Linked DNA regions of Homo sapiens. The protein of the gene in region 2 interacts with the protein of the main gene of each other region in a pairwise test. Each region holds a gene or a part of one and is shown on either strand. Other genes may lie near its edges. The genes, in order: NDUFAF2 and ARMC9.

Region 1 (16,518 bases), on a different chromosome or scaffold from region 2:
GTTTGTTAGACATCCACCTCCACCCAGATAGTTGGCTATATTATTCTGGAGCTTGGGGAGCAGTCAGGCTTGAAATGAATTTGAGCTTCTTCAGCATATGTAGACAATATTTAAACTTGGGATAAGAAATGATTACTTTGAGAGAGAATACAGATACTCCTTAACTTACCATGAGGTTATATCCCGATAAACCCATTGTTAAATCAAAAATACATTTAATACACCTAACTTACCAAATTCATAGCTTAGCCTAGTCGACCTTAAACCTGCTCAGGACACTTACATTAGCCTGCAGTTGGGCAAAATCATCTAGTAACACAGTACACTGTAGAGTGTGGATTGTCTACCCTTGTGATCAAAGTGATGACTGGGAGCTGCTGCTCAATGCCACCACCTAGCATGATGAGAAGGTATTGTATGGCATATCACTAGCCTGGGAAGAGATCAGAATTCAGAATTTGAAAATACAGTTTCAACTGAAGGCATGTCGCTTTTGCACTGTCATAAGTTGAATCATTGTAAGTCAGGGACCGTCTGTATAGTAAAAAAGAGGGCTAGAATTGAGTCCTTGAAGCATTTCAGTGTTCTGAAGTTTGGCCAAGAAGGAGCTAACAGTTTGATAAAAAGATATTTGGATATTTTACAGACAACTTAAATTTGGTATGTTTAAAGCAGAACTCTTTTTCTGTTTCCTACCATGGTTAATGGCATTATCTGTTGATAGCGACAGGAGGCAGCCAAATGCCTAGGCTAATAGGGGCGGGTCCCTGGTGAAACCCCACCTTCAAGCCAAAAACAGCCTGGAGGCTGAAAGACCAGGCTGCTGGTCCCAGATGAAACCTGCAACCCAGAGTGAGAACTTATGTTCCTGTTTGCCTGCCCTTTCCTGATTAATTTTTTTTGAATAATGCCTTTTAACAATTGAATGTTGCCTTTTCCAATACTCCCTACAGCCTGTCCCTTTCCCATTCTGAGCCCATAAAAGGCTCCTGACTCAGCCATATTAGGGGTACTTTCCCACTTTCGGATAGGGGGACCACCCCTACATCCCCTCTCCACTGAAAGCTGTTTCATCACTCAGGAAAACTCCCTGCCTTGTACACTCTTCGAATGTTAGCACATCCTCATTCTTCTTAGGTGCAGGACAAGAACTCAGGAACCAGTGTGTAAGCCAGACTTGGCCCAAGTGGGCCGAGTAGGTGGGCTGTCTCCTGCAGCAGGTAGCGTGGTCAAGCAAGGCCTGGGCAGGGCATCGCCAGCCAGAGTTCCTCAGCTTGCAAAGTGTCACTGTCATCACTGATTAGAAACAGGGATTGTCCTCATCTCCTTCACCTCTACATATTGGTGACTAAGACCTTTTTCCTATTGAATATCTTAACAATCTTTTTTTGTCTGTCTCAATACCATTGTCTTGGTTCCTGCCCTAATGATTTTCTTACTTGCATTTCTGCAGTGGCCTGCTATCCGATTTCTCTGTTCCAGTCTTGCACCTCTCCAATCTAATTTCTATAGTTGCCAGAGTCATCTTTTTTAAAATATGGGATAAACATATAAGTCTCCTGCTTATGGTTGCCAGATTTAGCAAACAAAAATACAGCATACCCAGTTAAATTTTAATTTCAGATGAACAAGGGATAATTTTACATGTATGTCCCATATAATTTTTAGGACATAAATACTAAATTATTTGATGTTTGTATGAAATTCAAATTTAACTGAGCATCCTGCATTTTATCTGGAAATCTTGCTCTTCCTTCAGAGCCCAAAAATGTTTCACCATCACTTTCAGGGTGAAACCTAAATATCCTAACACTGCATTACAAGATTCAGCATGTTCTAACCCCTGTATACCATATGAACCACTCAGTGTCCTGAATTTGCTTTGCTGCTTTACTCCTTCATACCTCTGATCACATGCTTACTTTTTCCTAGAATGCCCCTCTCTTCTTAGTTCTCTGGTTGATTCTGATTGATTGTTTAATACTGAAGTATCACCTTCTCTAACCCTCCAGTCCACTCTGGATAATAACTGGGACACCAGGGCTGGGTGTGGTGGCTCACGCCTGTAATCCCAGCACTTTGGGAGGCCAAGGCGGGCGGATCACCTGAGATAGGAGTTGGAGACCAGGCTGACCAACATGGAGAAACCCCCTCTCTACTAAAAATACAAAATTAGCCGGACGTGGTGGCACATGCCTGTAATCCCAGCTACTCTGAAGGCTGAGGCAGGAGAATCACTTGAACCTGGGAGGCGGAGGTTAAAGTGAGCCAAGATCACACCATTGCACTCCAGCCTGGGCAAAAACAGCGAAACTCCGTCTCAAAAAAAAAAAAATTAATTAATAATAATAATAATAATTGGGACACTAGCTTTTCTTCTGCATTCTCATAACATTCTTTGTTTTATATGATTGCAGAATTTATCATATTATAATTTAATTTTTTTAAACCTGCCTCTCTTCCTTAGATTGTGAGTTCTTTGAGCACAGGGTAAAAGTTGTGTCTTTTAACTCAATCCTTGGCACTTAGTGGGCTCTCAGTTAATATATGCATGAACCAATCAGTTAGTGAATGGGAAAGTAGGAAAGGACCCATAAGCATTAGCCACATAATTGGCCATTGGAGCTTACCCAGCTCTTCCCTATGGTACCTCCTTTGACCATCCTCTTTGTTCCTCAAAGATGCTTCATAAGAATAGGAACTAGGTTTTAATCTCTGTATCCCTAGGCCCTTAAATTGTAGGTGCTCAGTATATATTAAATGAATGAATGAATGAATGAATGAATGAAAAACACATGAATGAATAAGTATATCTTTCAGGGCCACAGCTCCTGTTGTCCCCTGCAACAAGTCCTAGAGGGTGCTGCCTCTGACCATATTTTTTATTCTCTAGGGCAGGCTCTATATAGCCTAAGTTGTAGCTTCTTTATGTCTTACTTCTTCTCATCCAACTCTTCTTCCCTCTCTCATCCTAGGCCAGAAGAATTCTTTTCCCCCGACAGCAGCTGGCACATAACAGCTCAATGAATGTTAGCAATCATTCACAGATGGAGCCTTTTCTTTCCTCCAGGGCTCTTGCCTTTCTGCCATTTCTTTCTCTCTCTCTGAGGCCAAGCCTGGAAAGCCATGGGGATCTGACATTGCTTTTTCTCCCAGGGATTATGGTCTTTCCTCTTCCCACACAAGGGAGCAAGGTTTTCTTTGTCTCCCACCAGGGTAGTTCAATTAAATAGGACTAGCATTAAGTGACTCTAATTATTTTTTATTAATGTTTAACTGCTAAATTTCTTTTTCAATTAAATAATTGTGTCTTTATGCTTAGAGGCCCTTTTTGCGTATATATGGGAGTTCATTTATTTTAGTAAAGGAAATACCACCTGAAAAACTGTTAATGACTTGAGCTCTGTGATTAGTTCATTTTAGTGACATTTTGAGATTTAATAATTAATCTGGCTCAGGTTCAAAGAAAGAAAACTTAATGCCAGAAATTCCTAGCCAGCAAAGAATATAAACAAACCATACAATTGTCCCCTCAAATAACAGGAATCATTGAGATAGCCTTCTTGCAATTAGAAATGTTTTGAAAAAATGCATGAGGAAGGTTCAAGAAAGCATGTCAAAACAACAAAACTCAGTGTACATTCTCATTATTGTAATTGATCAAAGGATGTTTGCAATAGATTTGAATTTGAATAAATTAAATGTGACATTGATTTGGCAGAGGCGTACTAGTGATTGGCAAGAACATGTAGCAGGAGCAGCTTCTGCTAAAGCATAACTCACTTGCCTCTTGTTTTATTCTAATAGATTTCTTAGCAACCCAGTACTATCATACTAACCTAAGCTCTGTCACTTATTTACTCTTTGGGTTTCTACTCCCATCCAGGCAAGATTAAATTTATTTTTGATTACTGATCTAGCAGGTGTTCTCTTGGGCCTAAATACAGAATACCTTTTGGTGATCTATGCACCTCCCTCTTTTTTCTTCTTTCTTTCGTAGATGAAAAAGGGTGATCTAATAACTTATTTCATCCTGGCAGTTCAACTTGTAGAACTAGAAAATGTAGTTTAATTAAACAACTTGGCAATAAAATTCGAGCTGAGACATCACTATAGCATTTGCTAGGCTTGAATTGTTTCTCAGCATGTTACAAAATTAACACTGTAAAAGAATATTCAACTCTGAACGTTTTGAAACAACAAATTCCCATTATAATTTTATAATTATATTGAGGATTGGGGGCTGTGTGGTATATTCTGGGAGGCTACTTTCTGGGCATGACTATCTAATAGTAAACAAATGTTACTGGTATGGGGTCCCAAAACATACTTCATGCCAAATTTCACTTATAATCTACATAAATCGTTTTGTAGTCTATGAAAAACATTTTAATTGACTCAAAGGCAATGTACTCATACTTTAAAAATTTTAATATTTATTAAAATAAAAATTATTCACTAGTATATATGGTTTAAATTATGGAAAGAAATTAGTGGAGCTGTCAAGGTCAAATTTATGTCTGGTAAGCAGTAAAAAATGTATGCATTTGGGTATATTTAGTAATTGAAATACTTTTACATCTTTATCTTATGTGTACTTTGAAAAGTATGTCTAGCTCCAATAGATATTAAAGATATATGTACATTTAGCTTTTGTCACAAATGTACCGCTAATGTATAATTTTAAATTATAACTTTTTATAAATCCGGTTTCTCATTTTTTATATGTAATATAACTTGAACTTCATAAATAAGCTATGGTTTTGTTCCCACAGAAGACTGAAAAAGAACCCAGTTACATGGGCCTAAGACTGACTCCTGAGCCTTAACTTGCTCTTGAAAATAGTGAACTTTCTAACAATGAAGCACTGTTGAATTTATTTTAAATTATATTTAGATTTTGTCTTGGCATGTGTTTTGAACTTCAGTTTGAACATAGTTATATATGATATACTTGGAATTCACAAGTACTTGAAGCTAAATGGAGACCATTTATAAATACTAAACTTTAGAGGAGCCTGGAGCCAGAACATTAAAGATGAAATGGCATATTTTTGTGTGTGTGTGTGTGTGTGTGTGTGTGTGTGTGTGTGTGTGTGTGTGTTCAACCTGCCTTTTTTCTACCTGGATTCATAACATTTTTAAAGCAAAGTTCTAATTCCCTAATAAAGGGCTGAGCATTAACTCTATTCCATTTCCATGTCTATCAATATAAAAATTATTCAAATACTTTTGAAGTCTATTATTATGGAATTTTATGCTTACCATGAATATTACACCATCAGCATCATATATATGTACATATAAGGTATTACTGAAACACTCCTTCATAGAAGAATTCTCAGTTGACTAGGTTTGAGCCTTTTAAGGAGAAAAATTGGGCTAAGGGATTGAAATCTTGAATGATGGTTTGAAAACAGTTATTCATTTTTATTTATACACACATTACACACAACATAAAAAATACTAGTGACATTTTACATATCTTAAATTAATAAAAATGGGTAATTTATAATTTGCATAATTTGTATTTACCTTTTCTTGTTAAGTATATGTATAATAACAGATAATATTCCTAAAAAATATTTTGTATATATACTTAGATCTGCATCTAAATATTTGATTCCATTTAATAGTATAGACTGAGGAATGTTCACTCCCACACCTCTGGTCTGAGTGTGGCTCCAGAGAAGCAGAATGGTGGATACCTGAGGTTGAAAACTCTTTGGGTAACCTTTGAACCTATTCAGATATCTCTCAGCCCTTCCCTTTCCCCAATACTCATCAAGTAATCTAAACTTATCTTCCAGTCATGATAACTTCATCAGAGAGCACTGGTCATCAGCTCTTAGCCTTCCCTCAGATATTAGAGTGCATTTCCAAAGCCCAGGTTTAAATAGCTTTAGTTTTCTTTCTCTCTCCCAACACATCATTGCAGAGACCTCTAGTATTTTTCTACCATTTGTTTTACCTCCTCTTTATAATTCAAATATCCACGCATGTTATCTAATAACTTCCATAGCAGTAAGTGTATATTAAAGCTGAATTCCTTGCCTTTATGGAAAGTTAATGTATAGTAGGATTTTGCATGAGGGACTGTATGATTGGAGCAGAATAACTACTTATTATATCATGCCTAATATCTGTGAGTGAGCTATAAGTCAGCATGTTAGTAGATTCCATATTTAAGCTTTGTTTTTTAAAAAAACAAACTTTAAATCTCTTTTGTCATTACTACACATAGCAAGTTGCAGCATTGAATGCAACAATAATACAGCTACCAAAAGGGCTCTTAACCAGGGCTCTTAGCAAAGTAACAGCATTGGAAAGGACTTGAGCCACAACCTTTTGGGGGCTTAAGTTCACATCACTGAGTAAATGAATAGTGCACTATAAATAACCATTAACTACATTACAAAAACAATGATGAGCTTGTTAAAGGCATTTAGATCTTTTCGCTTTTTCTCTTTTTTAATCTAATCCTTCACAAACAATGATAATTTATATTAAATTTTGACCAGAAAAATATATAAATTCAAACATTAAATACATGCAAGTTGAGCAGCTCAAATTCGAAATCCAGATTGCTCCAAAATCCAAAACTTTTTGAGCACTATTAAGGCATTCAAAGGATTTGGGGATACTTAACTGGTAAGTAAAAAGCAAATATTCCAAGATCCAAAAAATTCCAAAATCCCAAACACTTCTGTTCCTAAGCATTTCAGATAAGGGATACTTACCCTATAACAACATAAACAACTCAAGCCTAAACTAATTTGCTCCAGCTGAACACCCCTGAAATGAGAGAGATGCTCACAGAACATTGGTCATTCATAACATATACATTTAAGGAAAGTTTTGACACACCGATTTTGATACAGCTCATGCCTTTTTTTAATTTGTCAGTATGGTTTCTTTCTCTTCTTCCCTGAGATTGGTGGAGAATGATATTCTTCAATATTTCACTCCAGGAGACTCTTTAAATGACCCTTTTAGAAGGGGTTGACCTCATGCATGACTCTCAATTGTCAACTCCATGAGGTTCTGCTTCAGGTGGACAAGAAGGCCATTGTTGATACACTGCTCTATATCCCTAGTCAGGGGAGCCAAGACAGTGGTATAAAACATGGAAGCTTTGGTGACTAGAGACTTTTTGTTGATGGGAATAAGGAGGTAATAAGGCAGAGTGTTGCTAATTTGAGGGCTGCACGTGGTAACAACAGCCCTTTTGTCTCAGGCTGTGCGTCTCCTGAACCAGGTTCACAAAGCTTGAGAAGTTTGCTTGGCAGTATAGTCATCACTGGCCTCAAAATCCGTATTGGTATTTTCAATGGACAGTGTAACAATGCTTCTCATGTGCTCAGGGAACTTAGATTTGGTGGACGTAGAGTTTTAGGGTATCCAGCACCTGGCAGAGTGTCCAAACCTCTGGTGTTTTTCCTCTGCAATGAAGTCCTTCATTCTGATCATTTCCAGTGCTATTTATTCTACAAGGTTTCCATCTTGTATCATTTTCCTTCAGTTGAAGTATGTCCTTTAATTTTTCTTATAGTAGATATTTGTGACAAATTCAGCTTTTGTCTGAAAATGTTCTTATAATACCTTCATTTTTAAGATGTTTTCACTGGATATAGGATTCTAAGTTGTTTCTGATGAGAACTCAGTGTTATTTCTTATCTTTGTCTTTTGTATAAGTGTCTTTTTTCCTGTGTCTAGTTTTAAGATTTTATCATTAGTATTTAGCAATTTGATTTGGATGTGCCTTGGTTTTATGATTATCCTGCTTGGGGTTGTTGAGCTTCTTAGATCTGTGAATTTATATTTAGTCATTATTTTCTCTTCTCCTTCCATGACCACATGTATATCAGACTGCATAGTATTGTCCAATAGCTCACTGAGGCTCTGTTCATTTTTTAGCCCTTTTTTAAAACTCTCTCTTGCTTCAGTTTATGTATTTTCCATTGTCTTATATTCAGATTCACTGTTCTTCTACAAAGAAGCACTCAATTTTTTTATTTCATAGGTTGTTTTTCACCTTGAAGTTATATTTGGTTCTTTATAACAGTTCCCATTTCTTTCCTCATGTTGATTTTTTTTCTTTAATTCTTTAGACATTTTTATAGTAATTGTGATAAAGTCCTTGTCTGTTGATTTCATCATTTCTATCATGTGTAGGTCTACTTCTGTTGACTGGTTTTTAGTCATCCTTTCGTCTTCACCTCTTGATTACATGATGAACATTGAAATATTATGTTTAGTATCTCAGTTGTGTTGTCTTCCTTTAAAAAATACTGAGTTTTGTTCTGGAGGGCCATTAATTGACATGTGAACCAGCCCAAACTTTTGGAAGCTTTTTTTTTTGAGACAGGGTCTCACTCTGTTGCCCAGGCTGGAGTGCAGTGGTGTGATCTTGGCTCACTGCAGCTTTGACCTCCTGGGCTCAAGTGATCCTCCCACTTCAGCCTCCCGAGTAGCTGGGACCACAGCTGCATGCCACCAGGCCTGGCTAATTTTTGTATTTTTTTTTCTTTCTTTTTTTTTTTTTTTTTGTAGCAACAGGGTTTCACCATGTTGTCCAGGCTGGTCATGAACTCCTGGACTCAAGAAATCCACCCACCTCAGCCTCCCAACGTGCTAGGATTACAGGCGTGAGCCACCACGTACGGCTAGAATCTTACTTTTAAGTTTTGTTAGAGTAGATCTAGAGCAGTGCAGTCCAATCCAAATTTTTGCAATGATGGAAATGTTTTATAACTGTACTTTCCAATATAGTGGCCATTAGTCATATTTGGCTATGAAATACTTGAAATGTGGCTAGTATAATTCAGTAACTGAATTTTTTATTTAATTTAAATGGTATGTGGCTAGTGCCTACTGTATTGTACAGCATAGGTCTCCAATAAGCTGTACTCTCGTGCCAGTTTAGTCCTACACCTAAGGAGTGACCCTTCCGGGATCTTTACAATGTCTCAGGTGTTCAACGAGCTCTCCCTGGCTGGTTAGAACTTGACTTTTTCCTAGTCCAGTGCAAGCTCCAGCAATTTTCAGCCTATAGTTCCCCAGTATTCTTTAGTGAGAAGTTGTCCTTCCTGCTTTATGGAGTTTCACCGCGCACATGGACAGCTTAATATTCAGCTGAACACTCAAGTGGGTTACTATGCAGATTTCTAAAACTTACTCTGTGTATTCTGGTACTCCGCCTAACATATCCCAGCATATTCCAGCTTTCTCAGGCTCCCTAAACAACCATCTCTATCTCTCCATAAACCACCATCCTCTGGTTGGGTTCCCCCACCCTGTGTAGCAACCAGTAATGTGTCTCCAGCCAGAAAGCTGGGATGATATAGGGTTTATCTAATTTGTTACTCATTGATGCCCTTCAGGGATCACACTACTGTGCTGCCTATTGTCCAGTATCTGAAAAATGTATTTTTGTCCAGTTTTCTAGTGGTGCCATGGCAGGAGGACTAGCCTGGTACCAGTTATTCCATCTTTTGTCTGAAACTAGTAGATTACCTCTTACTAACATCTCTACCCATTTCAGAGAGAGATGTGTACAAGTTTGCTATGTTTATTTTTTAATAGAATGAAATCACTATTTTAAGATATATTTGTACCTTCTGTTGTACTATCACTGCCCAGTAGCCAGTTCTTTCCCAACCTTTACAACAGCCCATTGAAGAAGACAACATTATCTCCATTTCACACAACATGAAAGTGAGACACAGGGAAGTTAAATAATATTCATAGAGTCACACAGCTGGTAAATGGTAAAACTGGGATTTGTATTCAGTGGTCTGGCTTCAGAGCCCAAATTCTATGCCACTATTGAGAAACATTCAGTGAATAACAATGTGAAGAGTATACATATGAGTAATTTGAGGTATAAATATTTATACTTACATAGTCACATATAAACAAGATTCAATTTTTAAATCAATAATGTTTGGCTTACATTAGAATATGGAAAAATCTGTAATCTGCATAAACTTTTCAATCTTTAAGGGAACTCTAGAGGTTACTTAAGGGGAACAAAAGGAAGATACTTCCATTTGGTATTGTTGGTTTATTCATTTATTTTTTGAGACAGAGTCTTGCTCTGTCACCCAGGCTGGAGTGCAGTGGCGTGATCTCAGCTCACTGCAACCTCCACCTCCCAGGTTCAAGCGATTCTCATGCCTCAGCCTCCAGAGTAGCTGGGATTACAGGAGTACACCACCACACCTGGCTAATTTGTGTATTTTTAGTAGAGACAGGGTTTTGCCATGTTGGCCAGGCTGGTATCAAACTCCTGACCTCAAGTGATCTGCCCGCTTTGACCTCCCAGAGCGCTGGGATTACAGTCGTGAGCCACCACACTGGCCCATTTGGCATTGTTTTATAAAAGCTTACTCACCTTGTAATACATAACTATCTTAGGAAACATAATACTGTTATGAGTATAAGCCCCATTTTCAGATAAACTGAGACTAAAAAAGTTAAGTAGCTTTCTTGGTGTCACACGGCTAGCAAATGGTAGATTTGGGATTGGAACCCTGTCTGAGTCAAAGAATTACCCATGTGGATTGTCACCACAGTGTTATTTTTTTTAATGAAGAAGTGAAATATTGGAAGCAACAGTAGAGGTAGTTGTTAAGTAAATCATGGTACAATACTAGTGATAAAATAACATTCAGCCATCTTTTTTTTAAATGTTAAAGAAAAATATTTATTGGCAACAAGATAAATAAGTAAAATGATGAATATTTGTTTTTAAAATACAAACATTTATGTGAAGAAAGATGCCCGTTCCTGCTTTATCCTTACACAAACACTGAAACATACTGTTATTTGATAAACGTATGGAGATATAGGGTGATATTGTTCCAAGGAATTGGAAGGAAAAATACTTGCTTTTTGGTAGTTTGTATTTGCAAATAGACTTTCTTAAAAGTCCTTAAGGTCTACAATTCCTATCCTGTTTTCTCCACCTAACTACTTTCTTATCAATTCCAAATATTTTCATTGTTGTTGTTTGGGGGTTTTTTTGTTTTGTTTTATTTGAGATGGAGTCTTGCTCTGTCACCTAGGTTGGAGTGCCGTGGTACAATCTCAGCTCACTGCAACCTCCACCTCCCAGGTTCAAGTGATTCTCCTGCCTCTCAGCCTCCCGAGTAGCTGGGACTACAGGCATGTGCCACAATGCACAGCTAATTTTTGTATTTTTAGTAGAGACAGGGTTTTCCCATGTTGGCCAGGCTGGTGTTGAACTCTTGGCCTCAAGTGATCTGCCCGCCTCGGCCTCCCAAAGTGCTAGGATTACAGGCATGAGCCACAGAACCTGGCCCTTCAATTCCAAATATTTACAAGACCGTATTTCCTTTCATAAATGATTTATGTTCTGTTTAATTTTGCCTGGTACCAGTTATGTTTTTGGTACCAGTTTTGTTTTTTCAGAAAAACAAAAGGAAATTCTTTTTTAGGAAAAACTATAGTCTCCATATTTTTTAACTCTGAAATCTTTAACCATCTTCATATATAAAAATAATTAATATATTCAGATTGGCTTTTCTTTTGCCTCAATAGCTATTATAAGAAAGTCTTAGAAGAGTAATGTTGAATAAAGAGAAATTATGTGAAGGCAGGAGAAACAAGAACAGATCTTTGCCCTCCATTTTCTTTTCATCAAAAAGCATATGCATGTACCAACTGTAAGACTGCAACTATAGAGGTGACATAAATAAAGTAGGCAGGGGCACAGCTTCAGGTGACATGACTGATCTATTATACAAAATCCAAGCAAGCTCCATACCAATTTCTGAGTATCCTCTTGCTGCTTGAGGTCGGTTACTAGTGGAAGTTTAACCTGGTCCTGAACTTTTCATTCCGCTCCAAAGAACGAACTTCCATTAAGACACAGGGACTTGAATTTTTGTCTACTTCCACTATTTCCAGTATGATATTGAGGAATTTCCTTTGTGATACATCATCACCTTATATAAGAATTCTAGAGGGTATAGGAAGAAGAAAACCTGATTTCTCTACTCTCACCCTCACTTGGAGCAACCATACAGAACTCGCTTACTGTGGTGATTAAACTACTCATGGGGAATTGCTATGTGTTGTGAAAATTACAAGAATATTTATAAATATTGTTCTTTCCTGCACATATTTGCTTTGAGGGAGAAGTTTCATTAGATGGGCCCTTCTTCACATCTAAAACTAAGTCTTAACACTAAAACCACAAAAACTTTTCCCCCTTTAAGTACAAACTATTATTTTAAATGTTACTTTAATATCAGAGCTTACCTTTTTAAAGGACTATACAATCAATATTACTTGAAATTCACTTGAGAAACAGAAAGGTGATATCATACATTTAGATATCCAGATGTTGCCCTTTAAGTGACATTTTTTGAAAGTTTTGAAATTTTAAAAATACTTGACAGAACTTTTTTTTTTTTGGTCAGTGTTGTCAGATATTAGTTACATTAACATTCTAATTTCACATTACAAATAACATATTCTTAAAAATTAGATAATACAGGTAAGCAAAAAGAACATTAAAAAATTTCACACATTTAGAAATGCATTGTAAAATCAGAAGGAATGGACCAGGCGTGGTGGCTCATGCCTGTAATCCCAGCACTTTGGGAGGCTGAGGCGGGCAGATCACCTGAGGTCAGGAGTTCGAGACCAGCCTGACCAACATGGAGAAACCCCGTTTCTACTAAAAATACAAAATTAGCTGGGTGTGGTGGCACATGCCTGTAATCCCAGCTACTCGGGAGGCTGAGGCAGGAGAATCACTTGAACCTGGAAGGTGGAGATTGCGGTGAGCCGAGGTTGCGGTAAGCCGAGATCACACCATTGTACTCCAGCCTGGGCAACAAGAGCAAAACTCCGTCTCAAAAAAACAAAAAAAAACCAAAACAAACAACAACAACAACAAAACACAGAAGGAATGAATAAAGACCAAAGATGTAATTACTGTATTGCATTTATTTTTAAGATACGTATCTTTTCAAATATTAATATCTCTGAAACTATGTGTGGAATTTGCCTTTCTTAATGCTATAGTGATGCTTCTTAAATGTGATGGTCTTTTATTCAAGGAAATACAGTAACAAAGGATTGATTGTAATTTTGGGTATAGATCCTCCTAGATAGAATTCTGAGGAACAGAACTGCATTGTACAATCTGTTTGCACAGATTTGAGAAAGTATTTCCAATAGCAAAGAACCTCTCTGCAACAGTGTCTAGGGCATGCCAAACCCTGATTCCATTCCTATCCTCCTCCTTTCCTGCCATACCACTCCAGAAGAGAAAGGGAAATATTAATAGATGAGGCTTGGTTCTGGTACTACAGAGGGTGACGTTAGCATTCACACATCTGAATGGCAAAGAAAAAAAAAAAAGGGTAGTCAGAGCACTTCTTTCTCACCAGTGGAAAAGTACAGTCACTGAGTTTTAGGGCAGAAATCAGTGTTAAGCTTAGGAAATCTTTCATAGAGTGTCTCAGGCTTCTGTGTAATATTTCACATTTGTTTGTTTCATTTTTTGAGTAGTAAATATTTCTACTGTGGGGTGCTTCATGTCTATTATAGCATAAAATCAGGACAGAACTGTTTATGTAACATTAGTATGTAATCATACAGCTTTTTCAAACTTATATACATATCTGTATATTATTTAAATGCAAAGTATGTATGTATATATTTATATGTATATAATGTATTTTATTTTTATTGGCTATTTTTATAAAAACTTTTTTTAACTAGAAATTTAATAATTTCTTCCATTTATATATACATGCAGGAAATACTAAAGAATGAAAAACACAGAGAAGAAATCAAAATAAAAAGCCAAGATTTTTATGAAAAAGAAAAACTCCTTAGTAAAGAGACCAGTGAGGAACTCCTGCCTCCACCAGTTCAAACTCAAATTAAAGGCCATGCCTCTGCTCCATACTTTGGAAAGGAAGAACCCTCAGTGGCTCCCAGCAGCACTGGTAAAACCTTTCAGCCAGGATCCTGGATGCCACGAGATGGCAAGAGCCACAATCAATGAATGCATTATGGTCAAATCTTTTCATGTATATGGATGTGACTATTTTAACAAATAAAAGAAGTGAAAAGTTATTTACCTTGTATTTTCTGAATGTACAATAGTTTCCTATTCTATTAATCTTGAGTTCATTTTTAGTATGCACAAGAAATGTGAGATTATGTACTGTAGAAACCTAACTTCTTTTAGACTTAAATCCTTCATTTGACTTAGTCATTGTTATTTATGAATTTGCTTAGATTTGTTTTTCCCTCTTTGGATTACTCCCTTGAGAAGGATCCTGTAGCTGTGAATGCTTAGTACATTTTGGATCTTTATGATCATTTGGGAACCACTCATAGATAGAACTGGGTACAAATAATGAGGGTAAATATTTTTCCCTCTTTGGATTACTCCCTTGAGAAGGATCCTGTAGCTGTGAATGCTTAGTACATTTTGGATCTCTATGATCATTTGGGAACCACTCATAGATAGAACTGGGTACAAATAATGAGGGTAAAATAGTGAGCTCTCCCAACTGATCAAATATAGGAGAAAAAAGAATGAAGATTCTTATTTCTGGAGAGGTGACCTGTAAGATTCTAAAAGACTAATCAAAAATGTGAACTTGGATAAAACATGTAGAGGCAAAGAAAACTTAGTTGATAAGTGAAAAAAACCACTAAGACCTTGATGAGAGGATGGGACAAAAGCTAGCTTATGGTGGGACTCTGGTTGGAATTTGAAGAGAGGAATTAGGACCAATAGAAGTATACAATCCATAACAAAGTCTGAAAGGACAGTAGAGAAAGAAATAATGCAATAACTGGAGTTCCATGAGAACGAAAATTACTTTGAAAAAATAGAAAATTGGGGAAAGCTCTCAAAAAGCAGAAATTAATTTCACTAGAAGACAGAAGACAATGTACATGTTAAAACATTACATACAAAAGTACATTAAAGGGCCACACATTTTCTGGAGTGTACAACCAAGTTTTTGTTGTTATTCTAAAAGTTTTTCTCACAATGTTTGGCATACAATAGATGCTCAATATTTGCTGAACGAATGACCCAAATGTGTGTGTGTGTGTGTGTGTGTGTGTGTGTGTGTGTGTGATTACAAATGCTTTTCTTTTGTATTTTTTTATTATTATACTTTAAGTTCTAGGGTACATGTGCACAACATGCAGGTTTGTTACATAGGTATACATGTGCCATGTTGGTTTGCTGCACCCATCAACTCATCATTTACATTAGGTATTTCTCCTAATGCTATCCCTCCTCTAGACCCCCACCCCGCAACAGGCCCCAGTGTGTGATGTTGCCCTCCCTGTGTCCATGTGTTCTCATTGTTCAGCTCCCACTAATCAGAGAGAACACGTGTTGTTTGGTTTTCTGTCTTTGTGATATTTTGCTGAGACTGATGGTTTCCAGCTTCATCCACGTCCCTGCAAAGGACATGAACTCATCCTGTTTTATGGCTGCATAGTATTCCATGGTGTATATGTGCCACATTTTCTTGATCCAGTCTATCATTGATGGACATTTGGGTTGGTTCCAAGTCTTTGTTATTGTGAATAGTGCTGCAATAAACATACGTGTCCATGTGTCTTTATAGTAGCATGATTTATAATCCTTGGGTATATACCCAGTAATGGGATTGCTGAGTCAAATGGTATTTCTAGTTCTAGATCCTTGAGGAATCGTCATACTGTCTTCCACAATGGTTGAACTAATTTACACTCCCACCAACGGTGTAAAACTGTTCTATTTCTCCACATCCTCTCCAGTATCTGTTGTTTCCTGACTTTTTAATGATCACCGTTCTAACTGGCATGAGATGGTATCTCATTGTGGTTTTGATTTGCATTTCTCTGATGACCAGTGATGATGAGCATTTTTTCATGTGTCTGTTGGCTGCATAAATGTCTTCTTTTGAGAAGTGTCTGTTCATATCCTTTGCCCACTTTTTGATGGGGTTGTTTTTTTTCTTGTAAATTTGTTTAAGTTCTTTGTAGACTCTGGATATTAGCCCTTTGTCAGATGGGTAGATTGCAAAATTTTTCTCCCATTCTGTAGATTGCCTGTTCACTCTGATGATAGTTTCTTTTGCTGTGCAGAAGCTCTTTAGTTTAATTAGATCCCATTTGTCAATTTTGGCTTTTGTTGCCATTGCTTTTGGTGTTTTAGTCATGAAGTCATTACCCATGCCTATGTCCTGAATAGTACTGCCTAGGTTTTCTTCTAGGGTTTTTATGGTTTTAGGTCTAACATTTAAGTCTTTAATTTATCTTGAGTTAATTTTTGTATAACGTGTAAGGAAGGGATCCAGTTTCAGCTTTCTACATATGGCTAGCCAGTTTTCCCAGCACTATTTGTTAAATAGGGAATCCTTTCCCCATGTCTTGTTTTTGTCAGGTTTGTCAAAGATCAGATGGTTGTAGATGTGTGGTGTTATTTCTGAGGCTCTGTTCTGTTCCATTGGTCTATAT
Region 2 (13,993 bases):
CCTTTTCAGTGGTAAAGGATAGAAAAATAGAGATCCCACAGGATTCAAGCTCCTGAGCCTGCGATTCCTGCACACCAACCCTGGTTTCCCACACCTTTGCAATATCTAATCTGGGCACTATAAAGAACACACAAAACATTTAAGGTCTTTGAAATGGAAAGAATCAGGCACAGAACAAAGACTTGGGGCCAGAGAACTCTTGGACACGTAAATATACTGAAGTCACCCTTTGGACCTGCTGACCCACAGCGTGCAACTGACAAAAGCTATCCAGACCAAGTCTAGCCAGGCCTCCCAGGAACAAACCTCACAGGCATGGAAGGTTGCTGACAGCATGGCTCCACATCCTGGAGTGGCTGGGAGCCCACACACACTGACCCAGTCAATCCTGGGCCTAGGAGATAGAGCTGCCACTTGCCCCATTGCTAGAAGCACACCAGGCTGATATGGAGCTGAAGGAAGCCACCACAGACCCCATTATACCATAAGGTGACTGTCCACGCCTGCCAGCTGCAGCTGCAGCGACAGAGAAGGCTGGAGATGGAGGAAGGAGCACCGGCTCAGTGCCGTTTGACCACAGAGCTGTGTGAGTCCACCTGGGACAATGACAGCATCATGATTCAGCATGCACTAGTTCAAAGAATTCTGGAGAAAGGAGGTGGCAATTATCATGTCACCTGTCTCACAAGGAAGATAACTCACCTGTCACAAATATCTGTGGCATAATTTTGTGGATTTAAGTATCAGGCAGAAGTCAAAGAACTTCTTAAGAGTCCAAAACAATGCAGTTGCTACTGTTCTTTTTGTATCGAATGCCCAAGATATTTGTACTTACATTTTACGCTCAACTGCAACAGCGTTTCTGAGATTGGATTTTCTACAGAATCCCCACTTCCCCACCCAATACCATTGTTATTTACCACCATTATTGGCCATTGTTCTTTTATACTTCTAAAAATGAGTTTATGGGTGAGATGGCTCACACCTGTAATCCCAGCACTTCGGGAGGCCAAGGCAGGTGGATCACAAGGTCAGGAGTTCGAGACCAGCCTGATCAACATGATGAAACCCTGTCTCCACTAAAAATACAAAAATTAGCCGGGCATGGTGGTGCATGCCTATAATCTCAGCTACTCTGGAGGCTGAGGCAGGAGAATTGCTTGAACCCGGGAGGCGGAGGTTGGGGTGAGCCGAGATTGCGCCACTGCACTCCAGCCTGGGCAACAGAGCGAGACTCCATCTCAAAAAAAAAAAAACCAAAAAAGTGAGTTTACATGGCCGGGCGTGGTAGCTCACACCTGTAATCCCAGCACTTTGGAAGGCCAAAGTGGGCAGATCGTTTGCCCAGGAGCTCAAGACGAGCCTGGACAACATGGTGAAACCCTGTCTCTACAAAAAGTACAAAAATTAGCTGGGTGTGGTGACATGTGCCTGTAGTCCCAGCTACCCGGGAGGCTGAGGTGGGAGGACCATCTGAGCCTTGGAGGTAGAGGCTGCACTGAGCTGAGATCCCACCACTGGATTTCAGCCTAAGCAACAGAATGAGACCCTGTCTCAGAAAAAAAAAAAAAAAGAAAAAACGTTTACAGATAATTTTCCTGCATAATTGTCATTTTTAAAAATTACTTGTTTTATCTGTTTATAAGCAAATTTTCTAACATAAAATGGAAATGTATAGAGAACAAATAATGTAACAGTGTTTGGTTACACATAAGTCAAAGATGTTGATTGGTAAGGAATCCTCAAATCTGAATATTACAAAAATTTCACTATGTCATGTAATCAAGAACTGTCTCTGAATACTGCCTTACGCTGGAAGGTGCCAGTTACATTTCAAGTAAACTCAGAATTTTTCAAATAAGCCCTACAATGAGCATCTACCTCCTCAAGGCTGGCTCTTCTGTTCCTCCCGGACACAGGCGAGGGACAGTGTGTTAGCGCCTGTGGGTGAGGGTTGCCAAAACAAAGCACAAGCAGCTGAATGCAGGCACCCCTTGGAAGAATTTGGGGAAGCTGACCAGAGACCTGCATGCTTGTTAATGACTGCCACAAAGGTGAAGGGATCCTCCCAGGGGCAGTGCTGTGGGGCCAGGCTCAGCCCCATGCTTGCCTCTGCCAAGGTCCCAAGCAAACCCAGTGCCCATTCCTGAGGGGGCCTTGCCATGAGAAGTGCGGTGACCAAGAGCTCTCTGACTGTGTGGATGAGGTGAGCGCAGACTCTTGTGAAACGTTATGGCTTAAAGAAAAGTTATTTTATCAATGTGGCTTGGCAGAGTCCACAAGTCAAATGGCCCATCTACAGTTTGTTCTAAGGTCTATATTTGTAGACCTGAAACCACAAACCTTTGCTATGTCATTACAATCACATCTATCATTCTTCCTAACTCATGAATCACATTCTGTACCTGGAAATGGTCCCTGAGCTTAAAATAATACCCACACATAAAAGAATCTGCTATTATAACTTACAGTCACAAAATATTAGTGATGTTCTATAAACCATGATCAAAGCAGAATCAACAAGATGAGAAAATGTGTACACCATCAATAGTAACTTGTAGACACACACGCTTCTTATATCTCACAACAATGTAAACATACGTAACACTACTGAACTATACACATAAAACTGCTTGGGGAAACTCACTATTTTTTGAGTTCCACTAACAATTAGCATATTTTGCTGAACCTCAGTTCTACATATTTTTTTTATTTTTCTTTCTAAATTTTTTCCCCACTCTTCTTCATTCAACCCAGGCATTTTTCATTTGGGAAATCTACCATAGTGGGGGACACAGCTGTTGACTGGATGAGCAGAAAAGATATGCTTGTGACAATCAGAAAGTTTCAAGGTCTTTGAAGTTATATAAAAATAGACCTGAAGACATCAGAGAAATACAAATCAAAACTATGACAAGATATCACTTCAAACCCATCAAAATGGTGAATATTTTAAAAACACACAGAGAAAATAACAAGCATTGGCAAGGATGTAGAGAAACTGGAACGCTTATGTACTGCTGGTGGGAATGGAAAATAGTATAACCACTTTGTAAAACAGCTTGGCAATTCCTCAAAAAATTAAAAATAGAACTACCATATGATCCAGCAATACTTCTGGGTATACATCCAAAAGAACAGAAAGCAAGGCCTTAAAGAGATACTTGCACACCCACGTTCACTGCAGCACTATTTTTTTTTTTTTGAGACAAAGTCTCACTTTTTTACCCCAGGCTGGAGTGCAATGGTGTGATCTTGGCTCACTGCAACCTCTGCCTCCCAGGTTCAAGTGATTCTCCTGCCTCAGCCTCCCAAGTAGCTGGGATTACAGGTGCCTGCCACTATGCCCCGCTAATTTTTGTATTTTTTTTTTTTTTTTAGTAGAGGCGGGGTTTCACCATGTTGGTCAGGCTGGGCTTGAACTCCTGACCTCAGGTGATCTGCCCACCTCGGCCTCCCAAAGTGCTGGGATTACAGGCATGAGCCACCACGCCCAGCCCCAACAGCACTATTCTTAATAGCCAAGAGGTGGAAGCAACCCAAGTGTCCATCAACAGAAGAACAGATAAACTGTGGGGGTGTGTGTGTGTGTGTGTGTGTATGTGTTTGTGAATATATATCACAGATTATTATTCAGCCTTTAAAAGGAAAGGAAATCTTGTCATACATTGCAACATGAATGAACTTTGACGACATTATGCTGAGTGAAATAAGCCAATTACAGAAAGACGAATACTGCATAATTCCATTTATATGACATATCTAAAGTAGCCAATTCATAGACAGAAAGTAGAATAGTGGCTGCCAAGGCCTAGGGGGAGGATAAAGGCGGAGTTGTTAAATGGGGACAGAGTTTCAGGTTTGTAAGATGAAAAATTCTAGAGATCTGTTTCACAACAATGTGAACACATTTAACACTACTGAACTGTACACATAAGAATAGTTAACATGATACATTTTATGTTATCTTTAATCACAATTTTTTAAAAAGACCTAAAGAGACATTTGAGTGTTCTCAGATGCAGCTGGAGCTGAAATGCGATGGCAAACCAGTTGCGGAAAGTGTACAGCAGCCACCTCTGGAGGGACCGATATGCAAAGAAGCTTCAAGGCACAGGGCCTGTTGGCCTTACCCTGTATCATCACATCATCTGGTCATGTGTGAACTTCACAAAAGAGTCTCACTGTTCTGCTAGTTAGGTATTGAGGATTTGCTATATTCCTCTCAAATGGTAGCTTTAATTAAGAGATGCTCACCTATACTTCCAACGTGTAGGGTAAAGGTCTTTCTTCATCCAGAAAGAACCAGGGAAGCCAGGTGCTGGGGAGTGAAGCTGATTTCCTGAGGAACACACTTCACTCTAAGAACCTGTTTTCACCTCTACTAATGACTATATTCTTTTATGTTCTGAACATATCGTTCTAGGTGTGGGGGGTGCCAGGGAGGTCTGGCTGCTGTAGCATCCACAGAAGAGTCTGTGTTGACAGGAAGCAGCAGCAGCTCAGCATCCAGGGGCCAGAGGCCTGAAGCGGAGCAGGCAGAGGGTTCAGCCCTGCCTTGAGCTCCACGGGCCACTTCAAAAGTGCCCCTCTCTCAACAGCGCCCATGCCAGGCCACTGGGGAGTCAAGGACTAGGAGAAAACCAGCAGTGAATACCACTTGAACTCCAGCCACTCAAGGGGCTTGCAAGCCAAGCCTAAAATTATTTCTGGAAGTAGGTATGTTAAAATTTAAAAATCTGTTAAAATAATAAGGCCAGGTGCAGTGGCTCATGCCTATAATCCCAGTGCTTTGGGAGGTTGAGGCAGGAAGATCACTTGAGATTGGGAGTTTGAGACCAGCCTGGGAAACACAGCAAGACCCTGTCTCCACATAATTTTTTTTAATTATAAAAATAAAATAGACCAGGTGTGGTGGCCACATCTGTAATCCCAGCACTTTGGAAGGCTGAGGCGGGTGGATCACCAAAGGTCAGGAGTTTGAGACCAGCCTGGCCAACCTGGTGAAACCCTATCTCCAATAAAAATACTAAAACCAGCTGGGCATGATGGTGTGTGCCTGTAATCCCAGCTACTTGGGAGGCTGAGGCAGGAGAATCGCTTGAACCCAGGAGGCGGGGGTTGCAGTAAGCCAAGATCCTGCCACTGCACTCCAGCCTGGGCAACAGAGCGCAACTCCGTCTCAAATACATAAATAAATAATAAAATCATCCAAATGTGAAACATGCTGTCTCAGGAAATGGTACAGTCTCTAGTCAATGGAAATATTCTAGGTGAACTGATTACTTACCTGGCATATTACAAATGAGATTTAGACATCAAATAATGGTTAAAATAATGACTTTTTAATTTTTTTGGAGACAGGGTCTCACTCTGTCACTACAGCTGGAGTGCAGCAGTATGATCATGGCTCAATGCAGCCTTGATTTCCCAGGCTCAAGTGATCCTCCTACCTCAGCCACCTAAGTAGCTGGGACTACAGGTGCATGCCACCATGCTCGGCCAATTTTTTATTTTTTATAGAAACGAGGTTCTGGCTGGGCATGGTGGCTCACATCTGTAACCTCAGCACTTTTGGGAGGCCAAGGCGGGCGGATCACTTGAGGTCAGGAGTTCAAGACTAGCCTGGCCAATGTAGTGAAACCCCGTCTCTACTAAAAATACAAAAATTAGCCAGACGCAGTAGCACGTGCCTGTAATCCTAGCTACTAGGGAGGGTGAGGCAGGAGAATCGCTTGAATCCTGGAGGCAGAGGTGGTGATGAGCCGAGATCGTACCACCGCACTCCAGCCTGGGCGACAGAGCGAGAGACTCCATCTCAAAAAAAAAGAAAAAGAAACGAGGTCCTACTGTGTTGCACAGGCTGGTCTTGAACTCCTGGGTTTATGCGGTCCTCCTGCCTCAGCCTCCCAAAGTGCTGGGATTACAGGATTCAGCCACCATGCCTAGTCAAGGATTTTTAAGGTCCCTTCTAACCCTGAGAGTTGAGGTCTGTATAACCTCTGTGCCCCTGCAGCCCACTGGTATTCACAGAGCTATTCAGACTTCCTTTCACAGACCCGCCTTGTCAGTCTCACTCTTGCTCCCTGTTCCCTCCAACCTCCCCAAGCTAGAATGCAAATGCTGTGCTGGCAAGGGGCTGGATTTTGTTTGTTCACTGCTGGATCCCCAGTGCCTAGAATTAATAACCTGAAACTCCTCAGGAGGAAGGCTACAATTGTCTCAGTTCCTAAACACTGCATGGTTTCTTCTTTTCCTTCTTCCCAAGAAATGTTTGTGAAAGATCTTATATGGCCACACATTTCCTGGGGAGGGTACAGAGATTTAAAATGACATTATTAGTTCATCTATAAACACTTGTGCCATCTAAAGTAACTCTGAGCAAGTGCTCAAAAACTATTCTAGCACTATCCAACAGCAGCATTTTCCACAAGTTGGGAGCATCCTGAATTATCTACAGGGATGAAAAATAAGCAAAATGTTACCTGAATTGTCAATGATTTGGAGTCTCTGAAAGATCCGCCTACTGTTTTACACAATGGTTTTCCTTTTATTTTGCATTCTTTTGAAAATGTTTTCAAGGTGTCTTCAAATTCAGCAAAATCTAAATACTATAAAAAATAAATAATTCAATTCAACAGCAAAACAAACAAATAATCCAATTAAAAAACAGCCAAAGGATCTGAATAGATATTTATCCAAAGAAGACATTAAAAAGACCAACAGATACATGAAAAGGTGCTTAACATCACTAACAATCAGAGAAATGCAAATCAAAACCACAGAGACCTAATTACCTCACACCTGTCAGAATGGCTATTACAAAAAAGACGAAAGATAAAAAGTCTTGGCAAGGATGTGGAGAAAAGGAAACACTTGTGCACTCTTGGTGAGACTGTAAATTGGTACGGCCATTATAGAAAACTGTATGGAGGTTCCTCAAAAAAATAAAAATAGAACTACCGGCCAGGAGCCGTGACTCAAGCCTGTAATCCCAGCACTTTGGGAGGCCAAGGCGGGTGGATCACGAGGTCAGGAATTCGAGACCAGCCTGGCCAGCAAGGTGAAACCCCGTCTCTACTGAAAATACAAAAATTAGCCAGGCGCAGTGGCGCGTGCCTGTAGTCCCAGCTACTCGGGAGGCTGAGGCAGGAGAATCGCTTGAGCCCAGGAGGTGGAGGTTGCAGTGAGCAGAGAAAGCACCACTGTACTCCTGCCTGGGCGACAGAGTGAGACTCCATCTCAAAAAAAAAGAAAAAAAAAAGAAAAAATGGTATAGGCCAGGTGGCATGGCTCATGCCTGTAATCCCAACACTTTGGGAGGCTGAGGTAGGAGGATCGCTTGAGCCTAGGACTTTGAGACCAGCCTGGGCAACAAAGCGAGACCCCATCTCAAATAAATAAATTTTTAAAAGAAAATGTGTTATATAGGTAGGGTGCAGTGGCTCATGCCTGCAATCCCACAACTTTGGGAGGCTGAGGCAGGAGGATTGCTTGAAGCCAAGAGTTCAAGACCAGCTTGGACAACAGAGTGAGATCCTATCTCTACAAAAATTAGAATAAAACCTAGCTGAGCATGGTGGTGCACGTCTGTAGTCTCAGCTACCCAGGAGGCTGAGGCAGGCAGATTGCTTGAGCCCAGGAGTTCAAGGCTACAGTGAACCATGATGATGCCACTGCACTCCAGCCTAGGCGGCAGAACAAGACCTTGTCTCTAAAAAGATTTTTAAATGTAAATTTTTTAAAAAAGAATATATTCGCCATCACACCACCAAATTCCAAATCTGCAGTTGCACGGTGGGTGCCTCATCCCTGCTCCAGGCCCGTGGCTCTCGCAACCTGCAGGTGGTTACTCACACAGTTAAGCAGCAGCAAGCGCGAACCATTTCTTTAGCACCAGAAAGTTTAAGGCCTGGGCCCTACTTGTCAAAGCTTTTAGCGTAGGAAACCTAGGCCATTACCAGACAATGAGTTAAAAAAATTATGATGCAGCCACTCAATGAAATACTCTATGGCATTCAAATGTCTAGGGCCGATCATAGGCAGATGTTCATGCTATATTATTGTTGGCAGATAAAAAGCAAGCTACAGAACAATGTATCATCCCATTCTGTAAAACAAACTACAGGCATGTGAATATATTTTTACTATACATAGAAAAAAGTCTGGGAGGGAAATTTCCTTTTTATACTTCTGTAGTGCTTGAATCTTTTACCGTGGACGTGTATTGCTTTTATAATTTTCTTTCAAGGGACTTTTTAAGTGGCTTTAAGATTTGTTTAGTTATAAAACCAAAATGTAAATACATGGAATATTATATAATAGAAAAATAGCTCCAACATAACAATAGAAGAAACATTACAAGGCACTAAATAGTTTGTTGCATTTTAAAACACAAGTTTTCAAGATCTGTTTCTCTGTGACCTCTGCTTTGTATAATATACCTACCTCTTTCACTAGTCCAAGTAATTCAGATTCATGAGCCAGAATGTCCCCCATATTGAACTGTTACTGGTAATTAATTCTCACAGCAAAAATCTCTAGAAGGCAAAAATACAAGACAACAGCTTTCATTTCAACCACCTATGAAACTACAAAAAGGTGGTTGTGGTGAGCAGAATAATGGCCCCCAAAGACATCCATGCGCCAATCCCCAGAACCTGTGAATACGTGAGGTTACACGGCAAGGGGGAATTAAGGTGCAGATGGAATTAAGGTTGCTCATCAGCTGACCTTTAAATTGGGGGATGATCCTGGATTACCCAGGTGGGCCCAAGGCAGTCACAGCAGAGGGAGGGGGGCAGACGGAGGCAAGAGGGTCAGTGCCAGCATGATGAGATGTGAGAAAGACTCAACAGCCACTGCAGGCTTTAAAGGGGATAAAGTGGCATAAGACAAGGAGGGTAAGGAGCCTCTAAAAACTGCATAAGGCAAGGAATAGATCCTCCCACTGCATCCAGAAATGATCCAGCACTGCAGACACCTTGACTTCAGCTCAGTGAAAGCCATTTCAGACTTCTGACCTCCAGAACTAGAAGATATTAAATCTTTGTTGCTTGACACCACTCAGTTTATGGTCATTTGTTCAGCGGCACTAGGAAATACAATGGCTAAAGTCAAAAGAAACTCTTCCTACTCTTTCTACTAGCCCTCCCTCAAGGTGTACCCAAAGCAGTCATTCCCCATGGCCCACACCCCAGGCTCAGCCCAAAGCAGTTGCCCGTAACCCCAGAGGAATGAAAAGGTCTGGGCTCTAATGTTAACCATGCCATTCACTGGCACCTGATCTGAGACAACTCACTGAAGTGCAGAGCCTTTCTTCATCTATAAAATTCAGAATGTGTCAGAACTCATCGAATTTTTTTTTTGAGATGGGATCTCACTCCGTTGCCCAGGATGGAGTGCAATGGTGCAATCATAGCTCACTGCAAGCTAAAACTCCTGGGTTCAAGGGATCCTCCCTCCTCAGCCTCCCCAGTGGCTAGAACTATAGGTGCATGCCACCATACCCAGGTAATTTTTTTTTTTTTTTTTTTAAGTAGAGACAGGGAGACAGGGTCTTACTAAGCTGCCAAACTCCTGGGTAATGCAATCCTCCCGCCTTGGCCTCCCAAAATGCTGGGATTATAGGCGTGAGCCACCACACTCAGTCAGATCTCTTCTGAGTCTGTAACCTTACATTTTTCTGCCACTGCCTCCCCACCTCCTTTCTCTCCACTTCAATCCAATTTCTACACTTTTAACAAGTGAGCATTCCCCTCCTGCTTGGGACCCTCCTGTGGTTCCAGCGCCCTCCAGATGAAGGCCAGGCTCCTTAGGCTCAACTCCCAAAGCCCTAGACAACTTGGCCTCTGACACACTCCCATTTGTTCTGTAAACCTGAGCCACACTGGCCACTGTGTGGTTCCTGTGGACACCCACTGAACACCCAAAGCACACGCCTGCCCTCGTGAACTCTGGCTCACTGCCCTTCCTTCAGATACGTCTCATTCAGGTCTCTGCCTAACTGTCACCTCCTCAGAGAGTCTTGCCCTGACCACCCTTTCTAAGAGGTCGGCCCATCACTTCTCAGCCCTTTGTACTGCTTGATTTTTCTCAACAGCACCTGACAGGTGTTCCCCTGTGCCTAGACCAGTGCCTGGCACACAGTACAGGCTCAAAAACATGGACGGAGTGGAAATTGATTCCAGACATGAAGAAAACAGCGCAAGGAAAGGGACAGAACCTGAAGGAGACGGGTATGGGGTTATTTTAGATAGAGTGGTTGATGGCCTCACTGGGAATGTGACATTTCAGCAAAGATTGAGCACCTGGATCTGGGGAAGATGGCTTTGTTAGTGCACAGGCCTCAGGCTGAAGAGCTCTGCAGTCTTGGGGTATTGGGATGTAGCTAGGGGTGAGGCAGACAGCAGCAGGCAATGGGGGGCCGGGGCCAGGTCAGGTGGGCCTTACAGAGCTGGTAAGTGGCTTGGACATTAGGCTGACAGTAACAGGAGGCTCAGAGAGAGTATGGAGGAGGGGACTGACACCACTGATGTCCTTTTTTTTTTTTTTTTTTTTTCCTGAGACAGAGTTTCCCTCTGTTGCCCAGGCTAGAGTGCAGTGACATGATCATAGCTCACTGCAGCCTCAAACTCCTGGACTCAAGCAGTCCTCCCACCTCAGCCTCCTGAGTAGCTGGGCCTACAGAGTGTGCCACTATGCCCCAAGTCTTTTGTTTTCTGGTTTTTTCATTTGTTTGGTTTTTGGTGAGGTTTTTTTTTGTTTGTTTGTTTTTGAGACAGAGTCTCGCTGTTGTTGCTTGGGCTGGAGTAGAATGGCACAATCTTGGCTCACTGCAACCTCCACCTCCGGGGTTCCAGCAATTCTCCTGCTTCAGCCTCCCGAGTAGCTGGGATTACAGGCACCCGCCACCATGCCTAGCTAATTTTTGTATTTTTAGTAGAGACGGGGTTTTACCACGTTGGCCAGGCTGGTCTCGAACTCCTGACCTCAGGTGATCCACCTGCCTCGGCCTCCCAAAGTGCTGGGATTACAGGCATGAGCCACCACGCCCAGCCTTGGTTTTTTCAGAGACAGGATTTCACCATTGCTCAGGCTGGTCTTGAACTCCTGGGCTCAATCCTCCCTCCTCTGCCTCCCAAAGTGCTGGGATTACAGGGGTGAGCCACCACGCCCGGCTGCTGATGTCCATTTTTTAATATGCATGTTGCCTGCTCTACAGAGAAGACTGGAGGGGAGTGGGAAGAGGGAGATGAGTACTGCTCAGGCCACGCCAGCCATGAGCATCATTTGGATAAGCAAGAGGGGCCATGAGCGCTGTGAGTCCAGATGGAAAAGGCAGAAGAGGCACAATCTGCAGACCAGTTAGTTGTGGGACATGAGGGGAAGAAGGGAAGGAAGAACCCTGGGATCTGAGCAGCTGGCCGAAGAGTATGTGATTTGCTGAGTCAACGAAAACCTGGGGAAGGACTGTTTTGAGGTCAAACCAAGAGCTCTGTTTTGGCTATAAGTCTGAGCTGCCTGTTAGACATTCCAGTGGAGGTTCCGAAATGGTCAGTGGGTATTGTAAGAACCAAAGAAAGAGGAGAGAGGAGAGAAACACGAAGGGTGGCTCGACAGTCAACAGGTTTATTTCAAACCTGGGAGGGACTTCCGACCGAGTTAGGTCAGAGCCACACTCTCCTACAGACTAAGAGTTTTTAAGGATTCAGGGTGGGAGAGTTTATCAAAGGCTTGAACTGTTTCTGTGTCTCTCTGTTGTGCTTATCTGGGAGGGAGAGTTGTGTGTCTGTTCCTATACAACTTTCTGCAGCTGCAGGCATACCCCCCAAGTCTGCTTTTAGCTTCCCTTAGTGCACCTGAAGGGAACAGAATGTCCTTATTAAGGCCCACTGTTATACTGAGGCCCATTGTAAGAGGGTGAAGTTTGGCCGTTACCCAGGAAACAAACCTGTTGACTGTCAAGTCACCCTTCGTGTTTCTCTCCTCTTTCTTTAATTCTTACAGATATATGAGCCTGGAGTTTAAGGGAGAAGCAGGAACGGCATTCAGAGGGATAGCAGAGAATATGGGTGCTGAGCAAAGACACAGATTTAGTGATTAGAAGTGAAACAGGCTGGGTGCAGTGGCTCACACCTGTAATCTTGGCACTTTGGGACACCAAGGCAGGCAGATCACTTGAGCTCATGAGTTCGAGACCAGCCTGGGCAACGTGGTGAAACCTCATCTCTACAGAAATACAAAAATTAGCTGGGTGTGGTGGTGTGTGCCTGTAATCCCAGCTACTGGGGAGGATGAGACAGGAGGATCACTTGAACCAGGAAGGTCAAGGCTGTAGTGAGCCGGGATCACGCCATGGCACTCCAGCCTAGGTGACAAAGTAAGACCCTGTCTCAAAAAAAAAAAAAAAAAAAAAGTGAAACAAGAAACAAGATCAGCTGGGCACGGTGGCTCACGCCTGTAATCCCAGCACTTTGGGAGGCCAAGGCAGGCAGATCGCCTGATGCTGGGAGTTCAAGACCAGCCTGACCAGCATGGTAAAACCCCATCTCTACTAAAAATACAAAAATTAGCCGGGTGTGGTGGCAGGCACCTGTAATCCCAGCTACTCTGGAAGCTGAGGCAGGAGAATCGCTTGAACCCAGGAAGTGGAGGTTGCAATGAGCCGAGATCGTGCCATTGCACTCCATCCTGGGCAACAGAGTGAGACTCTGTCAAAAAAAAAAAAAAAAGAAAGAAAGAAAAAAGGTCATCGGCTGCAAGTAAGAAGCATGGTGACAGTTCGAAGAGAAGGGAGAGTGGGAACGGAAGGGAGGGTGGGAACCAAAGCGACTACAGCAACATGGCAGGGTTGCTGGTATTATAGTCCATTTAAGATCTCTGCACTTGAATCTAAAATGGAATCAGTCTGCACAGTTTTGCAGCTCTTCTCCAGGCACTTTCAGCTATCTGAGTTAGGTTAACCAATGTGAGAGGTTCTTCTAGAAGAGAGAGGAAAGGGAAAACAGTACAACCACGATGGGACACTGGAACTAATCAGGTTAAGAATGGGGGAGGGGAACACACATAAGGCGGCTGCAGAGCAGTGAGGAAGCAGTGGGGTCTGAGACCTGCTGAAGGAGGCACATTCCAGTGAGTGTGAAAGATGGAAAGGAGTGGGCAGAGAGTGGGACAGATGCCTGAAGGCAAGACTTTGAAGGTGACTAGTACTAAAAAGCTCCCGACCACGGGAGTGGGCAGATGAGGAGGATGGAGGAAAGAGACGCCTGCAAGTAAGGAGGATGAAGAAACTGGAGGGGCCAGGATGTGGAAACCCCCAAAAGTGAAGTAAAAGAGATGAAGGGATAGGCAGCCAGCCGGGTGCTGGAGGCTCCAAGGGAACTGGAGAGACTTGCCCTGGGAAGTGGCTACCTCAGGGAGGGCTGGCAAGGGGTATGGCATCTGCCATGTGCTTCAAAGGAGCTGGGGTTTGTGAAGGAGTGGGTAGTGATCTGGAAGCAGTAATGAGGAGCAGGGAGGACACCTCCCCATGCACCACACCAGCCCTGCCAGATGCAAAAGGGGAGAGAAGAAAGGCAGCTGCTCCTGGGGGACACCCACCTCTCCAGCCTTTTTCTGGACCATGCCTCCAATCCATCCACCTCCCCCTACCTGATCCCTCTCCTTGCTCCCTTCCACCAATCCCACACTGGACCCTGCCAACAGCGAACTCCTGGCCATTCCCCCATGCAACAAGCTCTTCCAGGATCCTAAGCCTGTGGTTGATGTATGCTCTGCCCCCCCAGGCAAACATGACTCATGATTCTAAGCCAAGCCAGATTTAATCTCTTTTCAAGAAGTCTTCCATGAAAAACCCCTCCCTTCTTTCCCTACCAAGGCTTTTTTTTTTTTTTCTTTTTCTGAGATGGAGTTTAGCTCTGTTGCCCAGGCTGGAGTGCAGTGGCGGGATCTCGGCTCACTGCAACCTCCACCTCCTGGGTTCAAGTGATTC

The links.
Region 1: the proteins of ARMC9 (region 2) and NDUFAF2 interact in binary tests that used the Homo sapiens proteins (3 or more experiments, as listed by UniProt).

The regions. Positions count from the first base shown.
Region 1 is NC_000005.10:61,138,906-61,155,423, forward strand, and holds the end of NDUFAF2 (NADH dehydrogenase [ubiquinone] 1 alpha subcomplex assembly factor 2), read left to right. Parts: intron 1-13,798; coding exon 13,799-14,050; 3' UTR 14,051-14,121; downstream 14,122-16,518. UniProt on the Homo sapiens protein: Acts as a molecular chaperone for mitochondrial complex I assembly. Complex I functions in the transfer of electrons from NADH to the respiratory chain. The immediate electron acceptor for the enzyme is believed to be ubiquinone.
Region 2 is NC_000002.12:231,200,745-231,214,737, reverse strand, and holds part of ARMC9 (lisH domain-containing protein ARMC9), read right to left. Parts: intron 8,541-13,993; 5' UTR 8,500-8,540; coding exon 8,449-8,499; intron 6,612-8,448; coding exon 6,486-6,611; intron 1-6,485. UniProt on the Homo sapiens protein: Involved in ciliogenesis. It is required for appropriate acetylation and polyglutamylation of ciliary microtubules, and regulation of cilium length. Acts as a positive regulator of hedgehog (Hh)signaling.